3 separate regions of the Homo sapiens genome follow, and regions 2 and 3 are each reported to be linked to region 1. The links are microRNA targets in miRTarBase. Many come from high-throughput screens and were not tested one by one. Region 1 holds a microRNA gene; each other region holds the end of a gene's coding sequence.

Region 1 (3,000 bases):
ATTTGACCATATGTTTTCTTTAAGTATTTTTGATAACTTTTTAGAGTTGGCCTCAGTCTGTGTTGAAAACAAAATCTACTTGGTGGCTAGAAGGGATGCCTAGAGATGAGAGAACCAGAATTGACCTTCTAGTCAAGGCAGATTTTAAGCTGAACCCCATGACTATAATCTATCCTGCAAGTATGGACACTGTTGAGGGTAAAATGGGGCAATGTTTTGACATGGGAATAGCAAGCATAAATCAGAATGGGCTAGGTATATAGTGAGCACGAAGTACAGAGACTTGATACCCAGATCAAGAATGGAGATGCCGGCTGGGGACAGTGGCTCACGCCTGAAATCCCAGCACTTTGTGAGGCCAAAGCAGGCGGATCACTTGAGGTCAGGAGTTCAAAACCAGCCTGGCCAACATGGTGAAATTCCGTCTCAACTAAAAATACGAAAGTTAGGTGGACATGTTGGCATCCCTTATTCCCAGCTACTCAGGAGACTAAGGCATGAGAATCGCTTGAGCCCAGGAGGCAGAGGTTGCAGTGAGCCAAGATTGTGCCACTGTACTCCAGTTGGGTGACAGAGCAAGACTCCGTCTCTAAATAAATAAATAAATAAATAAAATAATGGAGATGCCTAGGAAGTTGCATCAAAGTTAGATCTTGAGGGAGGTGGGAGAGCATACCAGATAAAGTCGGGAGCGGGATTTCCCAAGAGAGGCCATAGCATGGACCTCTGCATGATTGTTCAGGCCCCTGTGGACATGCTGACATATCTCTGTGAATAGTGGCAGTGCAGCCTTTGATGTCTAGGGTAGCAGAGATTAAAGAGGGCCACTCTCTGCCGGGTTTATATGCCCTGGGAGACTGATCCCAATTGACCTACTCTCTCCTTTCCTCTCTATGAAAATAAAATGATAATAGCAAACTAATTCCTGCTGGTATTCCTGAAATAATCCAACAAAAGTGAAAAAAGAAATCAGAAGGACCAGTAAATCCTTCTTCTCTCTACTGTTTAACACCAAACTATATTACTGTATGTATTCAAAATATCTTATATTTGCAATAATCATATCTACGATGACTATTGAAAAATAATGAAAACCACTGGCTTCCTATTATGAAAACAATATTACACAATGTGAAATTTATTAATTTTATTAATCTAAGAAGTGCCTTAATATTTAGTTGATAACTTATTGACAGTATTTATTGTAAAAATAAATGTGTATATTTTTATCTTTTCTTTCTGCTTTAGATATGTTGTGGAACAATGTTGAGTCTAAATAAACTACAAATTATATATTTTTGATATGTCTATGTATTATCTTATTCAATGAATACAAATTAACTTTTTGTTTTGTGAATTGCGAATGAAATAGTAAAGTGAGTCATTTTGCATATAATGTTGTTAACACCAACTCTGTGTCAAAAGCCCAACATTTACAAGTCAAAAGTTACTGCATTTAAGATGATTACTAAATAGTGAAGATGAGGTAACACAAAAATCAAACTAATAACAATAATGTATTTCAATTTACATTTTGTGACTCTGTGCAAGGAGATATTGTAGCTTTAGACAGAGTATATAAAATTAGAATATATATACAAAAGGATATATATATATATATATATATATATATATATATAATATAATCACATAGAAACTGATGTCGTTACAAAATGAATGACTTAGGAGTAGGCAAATTTCGACCTTTGATATAGGCCTTGAAAGATCCTTGAAAGGTGTGTATTTTGTATTGGCAAGGAGGAAGGAAGGCTTAGGATAAGCTGTAGTCATGTGAAAGCATTGGATATTGGGACTAAATTGGTCTTCTGGTTCATCTGAAGAAAGAACAGAGAAAGGAAAATTCCAACAGTAGTTAGAAAAGCCTTGTTTATTTTTCTCCCTTCCTCTCTCCTTTCCCAAGCGTTTCACTAGGAAAGAAAATAGCTCTTCTATGGTACCCATGTAATACTAATTTCTCAGCGTTGTCATTCTAGGAACTGCCAATGATTGATGACAATCTATTTAGATTCAGTTCTTTAAAGGACAAAGCAAACCACTTCAGTGACTGAATTTTTTTTTAACCTGCAATGTGTATTGTTTGATTATGTTTGCATAATTTATCAAGAGACTTCAGAATCTCCCCGTCACCTGCTCCTCAGATCAGAAGGTGATTGTGGCTTTGGGTGGATATTAATCAGCCACAGCACTGCCTGGTCAGAAAGAGCAAGTGTCCTAGCCTTTACCTCATGAGACCTTGGGTATCCATCCAGCGTAGGTCCCAAGGGAACTGCATTTGGTGGACTGGAGTGGCCAGCATGCTTCAGGTGAGATGAAAAGTGCCATGTTTAACCTGTGTTTGGAAGCTTGTCTTTCTCATAAAATACCTAGTTGTTTCCTCACATGAGCATTTTGATCATTACCTCCTCTTCCCCACTCTTTAACATTTTTATACCATAAAGAGAAAATAACTTGGGATTCCATGCAGACATTTGAAATTCATGGGCAAAATCTTCAAACTGCAAATAGTACAAGTTTTATATGCATGCTTTAATTTGACTTTCTTCAAATATGAATGCTGCTATAATGCACACATGCAAAGGCCGCTATTGGAATATACTTTCTATGTATCCTCAGAAGCAGAGCTGGCCTCTGGCTGGTAAGTGTGGCTGCCTCATCAGCAGTATATATCTGATCATCTCAACAGTGTTTTCCATTCCTAGTAAAGGAAAAGCCCCATAGAAATAGTAACATATGTGTTTAGGAGCTAACGCTTCAGGAGAGTTTAGACGAGGAGATTCTGGGAACAATACCACAGGAATCCAGGAAAGACTTTGATGCAGAGAAAGGCTATTACTCCATGAAACACTACAGATGGGAGGTGAGCCAAAGAAAATTTTTTGTACTTTGCAATGTTTCCTTAATATGGTCCTGCTCCAACATAATGTAATTATACAAGCTGTGGTTGCCAAAAACTAAATATGAACAAAAATGGAAAAGACA
Region 2 (3,000 bases), not on the chromosome of region 1:
TTCAGGTGACACACACACTACACAACCCCCTCCCCAGCCCTCATCTTCAGCGAGCCCCTGCCTTCTAGCATCACTCGCCTCAGGTGTTGGAGCAGAGGCCGGCGTGCAGTTCTAGGGTCTCCTGGGCATGCCTGCCTGTTACTGGCACAGCAGTCTTTACGTGTGGGCCAAGGATCTTCTATACTTTTAATAACGTCTTCCAAGATCGGGTGTCTGATGAGCAGGCACACCCAGCACAGTTTCAACAAGCAATTTATCCCCCAGTGTGCAGGCTCCTTCCTTACAGGCTGAGTACTATGGGGTTACAATCTTCCCAGACATTGCTTATTGGTTGTTAGGCGGGGGCTTTAGGTATTTTTTTTTTAGGGTTGTCTTGCTGCATTTTGTTACAGCCCACAGTGCATTGCAATCTTAGTCTGCTTAGGGGCTCTTCAAGTATTTGACTTATGACCTAAGTAGCTAGGCCAGCTGGTAGGAAGAGACAAAGCGAGCTATTTTGCAGGCCAGTAAACTTTCATTTTAAACTTTTTTGGTTCGGGTGAGGGCAACCAAGGAAGGGGGAAGGGGGCAGGCGGGGAAGCCGATAAGGCATCGGCTAGCCTGAGGGGCCTAGTACAACCCGTTTCTTCCGTAGTTTGCTGACCGAAGCCGATTCAAGGCACTTTGTCTTAAAAATGGACCACCGTATACCTTATTTCCTTCACCCAAATAACAGCTTAAAGTTTTACTCCTCTTTGAGTCTCCTGTTCTTTGACCAACAGTTTCTAAATAGCTGTATACTGCCCCCCCCCGCAAAATTATATTTAACAAAGAGGAGCCCCTACTTGAATGATTTAGCAGCAAGCTAAGGCAAAGACACCCAGCGCTCACATTCCAGAATAAGAACATGTTTATTCAGATGTGCCAGAAGTCCAGGGTCACGCGGCTTCGCATTTAGGAGATGCTTTACAAGCTCTCCCATTTTCTTTTCAGAACATACACTGGGGGAATTCACAAACTAAAACAATTTCTGGTGACTTCCAATCTATATATTATACTTTACAGCTTCAATTGAATTTTTTTAAAAGTTAACTTCCAAGCTGGCTTGCCTAACACTGTGAGTCAAAAGTAACCCTAAAAAGGAAAAACACACAGCACTGAAGGGTCTCTGGGTGGTAATGCCAGCGTGGGCTGGGGAGGTGAGACTAAGCACATGGCTAGCAGACCTCAGGATGGGCCCTGGGGCTCATCATACAGAAATATGACAAGATGATGAAGTCACAACTTCAGATGTCATCGGAGCTATCTGTATATGACACACACATTATAAACAAATAACCTGGAACATTTCACAGTGTACGACACCTGTTCTACCTGGGAATGCAAACCCTGAGCTGCAAATAAGAACACAGACGTGGGAGACACCACGGCCTGAAGCTGCTCTCCTCTTCCCCGCTCTCCTCTCCTCCGGTCCCGTGATGGGTTACGCTGAGCCAGCAATGTGCACGCACTAACTCCACAGGTGTTAAAGGTAAGGTCACTTCTAAACACACAACAAAATTACCTTAACATTAGGACATTAAAAGTTAAAAGCCCGGCCGGGCATGGCGGCTCACACCTGTAATCCCAGCACTTTGGGAGGCGGAAGTGGTGGATCACTTGAGGTCAGGAGTTTGAGACCAGCCTAACCAACATGGTGAAACCCTGTCTCTACTAAAAATACCAAAAAAAAAATCAGCCAGGTGTTGTGGCAGGCACCTGTAATCCCAGCTACTCGGGAGGCTGAGGCAGGACAATCGTTTGAACCCAGGAGGCAGAGGATGCAGTGAGCCGAGGTTGTGCCACTGCACTCCAGCCTGGGCCACAGAGTGAGACTCCATCTCAAAAAAGATAAATAAATAAATAAATAAAATAAAAAAAGTTAAAAGCCCAACATAGAAACAGCTGCTGGCCATCAGTCCTGACAGACCACAGCACTTACTACCCAAGGACAGGCTGCTGAAGAGCTTGGCACTGGCGTGCATACTGGTTTTAAAGAGCAATTATGCAAGGAATCAAGGGAACAGCCAGCCTTTGGTGGCAATGACGCTCACGGGGTTGCCCCGAAGGCTGCTTTTGCCACCCGCACCGCACACTCACATCTTCCCTTCCTCCTGACTTCCATTTCCTTTCCTTACTCTGAGGACCGAGCCCTGACAGGGGCAGACTGTGAGGGACAAGGAGACTGTAGGCCCCAACCAACCCCAGTCGTGCCACATGGAGAGAGGGATGAAATCTCAGGGAGATGCTGAAAGGGCCCACATCAGCCAAAGCAGGAGGGACTTTTCTAGAATCAGGGAAGGGAATGGGATCGACCTGGAAGAGGCACTGTGCCTTTTCTGTGCTGTAGCAGAAGTTTCGATTCCAAACCAAGATACGGACCACACTCATGAAAGCACCCCGTGGCAGGTCGTGACTGAAGTTATTTTGGCAAAGGAGCAAGAAAAAGGTCTGGCCCGAAATAACTGACCCGAAGTAACAGAAATTTCCCTTTCCTAACCTTCTTTAGTTCAATTTAGTATTCTAATAGACGAGACTTTAGTTTAACGATTTTTTTCTAGTGCCGAGGTCTCCCTCCCTCAGAACGCACAGCAGCCCGCAGGGAGGGCTCAGCCCCATTCTTGGTTAGGTTTGGCTTTCGCTGGAGGTGCCGCAAGTTCTGTGCCATGAAAGCAATCTCCCTCCAGCTCTGGAGACAGGTGGGGCACAGCTTCCGTGACTTTTCTTTGGTGGGAAAAAGGTATACTTTGTAGGGTTAAACTGTTCCCAGATGCGCTCAAATTCTTCCAGAAAAAGCCGCACGTACTCGTCGTCCTCCGTGATGAGAACATTCTCCCTGTTGTTCTGGATGGCTTGCGTGGTCCAGTTGAGCGAGCCAGTGATGAGCACCCTCTTGTCCACGATGGCAAACTTGTGATGCATGTAGCCTGGGTCTTGATCGTGCCGGACCTGGATCCCTGCAGAAAGGACAAGGTGATTTCA
Region 3 (3,000 bases), not on the chromosome of region 1:
GGCCATCTGGATATGGTAATGTGGTGTCCTTGTACCTGGGAGGGGAGCTGGAGAGGAGTGCGTGGGCCCGGGGCTGATGTCCCTCTGCCCAGGTTCCTAAGCACGTGCTGCCTGGGGAAGCCCATGGCACAGGGGCCAGGAGCCTGGCTTTGGACTCGGCTGCCTAGGCGTGGGTCCCAGCATCATCAGCTTTGAGCTGTGTGATCTCGGGCAAGTCACTTCATCCCTTTGACCCACAGTCTCCTCATCTGTAAAGTGGGGACAATAAAAATACCCGTCGCACAGGGATACGGCAGGATTGAATGAATAATACACGCTAAAGGTTTAGGGCCTGGGGCTGCTGCCTCTGTCTCTGTGCATGGTGTCAGGATGCCCAGCCCGAGGGTGGCGGGGGTGGATCTTGGGTTGGACTCAGCTGAACATCCCGAGTTCTCACCCTTCATTTTTCTTTCCCACCATGTCCCCTGTCACCTAGGTTTCCTTGGGTCTTCTCAGGACCGTAGTGCCTACCAGACGATTGACTCAGCAGAGGCGCCCGCAGATCCCTTTGCAGTCCCAGAGGGCAGGAGTCAAGATGCCCGAGGGTACTGAAGCCAGCCACGCTGCGCCCGGCCCTGCCCCGGGCCTTCCTCGTGCCTGGGAGGTCGTTCTAGGGATGCTCCTGACCTCCGTCTCTTGGACCTAAGATGGAATGTGTCCCCAGCTCAGGGATTGCCTGAACCAAGAGGCCAGGAGCCCCCATGGGCCGCCCAGTACCATGCACACTCCTGTCCCGAACTCCCTGAGGCCTCCCCTCCCTTCAGGGCACCCACTGGTTCCCAGGCTGGAACCAGGGTCTCTCTTTACCTCCTACCCCATGGTGGCACCACAGAGGCCCTCAGCCGAGTCCTGCCTGAGTGTTGCAAGCTCAGGCCTTTAAGGACTGCTGATGCCCCCTCAGGCCTCCCCCAAGTTTGCTGGGCTTTGGTGGAAGCCCTGAGAGCTTCAGGTCCTGCTCAGCCCGAGGAGCAGTCTGGCATGGGAGTGAGGCCCCGTCCTTCTCACTGCCTGGTCACATGGTGCCTAGGGATGCAGGGCTGGAGGCCAGAGGTGTCAGCAACACTGTGTCCCACCACAACCTCCAGCCTCCCTTTTCAGAGCACAGCATTAAAGTTTGGGGAATTCTGTAGATGGGCTGTGTTTTGAACCACCTTCAATCTCCTGGCTGGGCTGGGGCCTGGCCTTGTTCCTGGGAAGATGTCTCCTGCCAGTTCCCAGGTGGAGCCTGTGCTGTGCTGCCCCATTCTGTCATGGCAGGAGGAAACAGGCATGTGCGTTGGCTGAGCTGGGCTTGAGCCTGGCTCTGGCCTAGCAGAGGCCACAGGAGAGAGAGACACTGGTGGGTGTGGTGCGTGGGCATCCGTTTCTCTGAACCAGATGACCCAGGCACTCTTTGGAATCCTGCTCTGCCACTTACTAGCTGCATGCCTTCAGTGTCTTCTAGAAAGGGTTGGTGCCTGCTCCAGGTGTGAAGTGCCTGGCGTGAGGAGGGCTCCCTAAGTGATGGTGAACTTGTTAGCAGTGGACCTGCTCCTCAGGCCAGTGACGATGCTAGGTTAGGAGGCAGGGGCGACCTCTTCCTGGTAGCCCCTGTGTCTGGTCACAGCTGACTTGGGCTGACACGTCCAGAAGTTCCCCAGGGCCTCGGCCCACCCCACGGACAGGTCTAGCTATTCACAGCTTGCTCTTCTGCCCCCTGGGCACCAAGTGCCAGGGCTTTCCCAGGCCATCCTGGCTTGTCCCTGGCACAGGGTCAAGGCCTAGTGCACAACTCCCATTATTCTCTTGCGTCCATCTGTCAATCAAAAGAGGCTCAGTACCTGCCTGGTGCCGAGCGGGCTTGGGGCTGCAGTGGTGACCTTGGGAGCCTGCTCTCAACCTAGGAGTCTTCCCACCTGGAGGATTACAGACAGAGGCAAGAGCCCCGAAAGAAGAGGACATGGGCCTCTGGGTCAGGGAGGAAGGCTGCTGTGGGGAAGGGGCTGTGCTCCGGGCAGAGGGCTGCTGAGCAGCTGCAGTTGTGAGAAACTGGAAACAGCCTCACTGTCGGGAGACGGACCAGTAAGCCACGGTCCATTCATTACAGGGAGTATGGACCAGGAAGCCACAGTCTATTCATTGTAGGGAGTATGGACCAGGAAGCCACAGTCTATTCATTGTAGGGAGTATGGACCAGGAAGCCACAGTCCATTCATTGTAGGGAGTATGGACCAGTAAGCCACGGTCCATTCATTATAGGGAGTACGGACCAGTAAGCCACGGTCCATTCATCGTATGGAGCACAGTGCAGCAGTTACAGCTGTTAAACCAGACCTATTTCCACCAACGTTGGCCCCCCGCAAATGTGAACAAAGCAGATTGCAGAATGGCATTGGGATGAATTTTCAGACCTCACAGCAATGCCATATGTTGTTCCTGGGTGTATGTGCGGTAAAATAGAAAAGCATGGACTAGAAGGACACCTGTCAGGTTCATGACTGTAGCCACCCTGGGTGGAGGAGGAGCGTGACCCGAGGGGAATGGGACTAAGACCCAAGTCCGTTTATCTTGTGTATACAGCATCCTGGCCCCGGGAAGGCTTGTGTACCTGCGTCGTGAACGTGTCAGATTCCCAAAGGGAATGAAAAGCCAGGGCAGGGGCTTGGCCCAGGCAGTGGGGGCAGATGATGCAGCCTGGGCCACGCACAGGGGAGTGTATCTAGACACCTCAGTCCCTCATCGTCCCAGACCCCCAGGTTGAACCGGCTCTTTGCGGGAGAGGACAGAGGAAAGCTCCTGTCTCAGAGTGTACCCCAGAAGCAGAGCCTGCGATGAAAGCAAGGGTGCCAGGCTTTCCAGTCATTGGCTAGGAGCTGCTCAGGGAGTGGGAGAGGGTGGCTTAGATTTGCAGGCACTGTGCCACCCCCCGACTGTGCAGGCAGTCGGGAGCCGGAGGGCCATCAGAGGCAGACAGAAACGGTG

The links. The annotated mature microRNA hsa-miR-383-3p reads ACAGCACUGCCUGGUCAGA and lies in region 1 at 2,201-2,219, shown strand. An mRNA with a match to its seed (bases 2 to 7 or 8) in the 3' UTR can be bound and repressed. Matches are read on the target gene's strand: a 7mer-m8 pairs with bases 2 to 8, a 7mer-A1 pairs with bases 2 to 7 and ends in A, and an 8mer does both.
Region 2: the mRNA of PLD6 is a reported target of hsa-miR-383-3p. Seed matches in the 3' UTR shown: 7mer-m8 at 1,951-1,957, 7mer-m8 at 1,607-1,613 and 7mer-m8 at 1,132-1,138.
Region 3: the mRNA of AGTRAP is a reported target of hsa-miR-383-3p. The part of its 3' UTR that is shown has no 7-base or 8-base seed match.

Annotation. Positions count from the first base shown.
Region 1 is chr8:14,852,662-14,855,661 of GRCh38, reverse strand. MIR383 (microRNA 383) reads left to right here and starts at 2,152; the gene lies at 2,152-2,224. The region is part of intron 1 of SGCZ (sarcoglycan zeta); the gene reads left to right.
Region 2 is chr17:17,200,124-17,203,123 of GRCh38, forward strand. It overlaps PLD6 (phospholipase D family member 6), which reads right to left. Exons shown (of 2, transcript NM_178836.4): 2 at 872-2,975. The coding sequence ends at 2,644. Among named protein-coding and RNA genes, the nearest start is that of PLD6, 4.7 kb to the right of the region's middle.
Region 3 is chr1:11,749,602-11,752,601 of GRCh38, forward strand. AGTRAP (angiotensin II receptor associated protein) reads left to right here. Exons shown (of 5, transcript NM_020350.5): 5 at 476-1,168. The coding sequence ends at 591. Among named protein-coding and RNA genes, the nearest start is that of C1orf167, 11 kb to the right of the region's middle.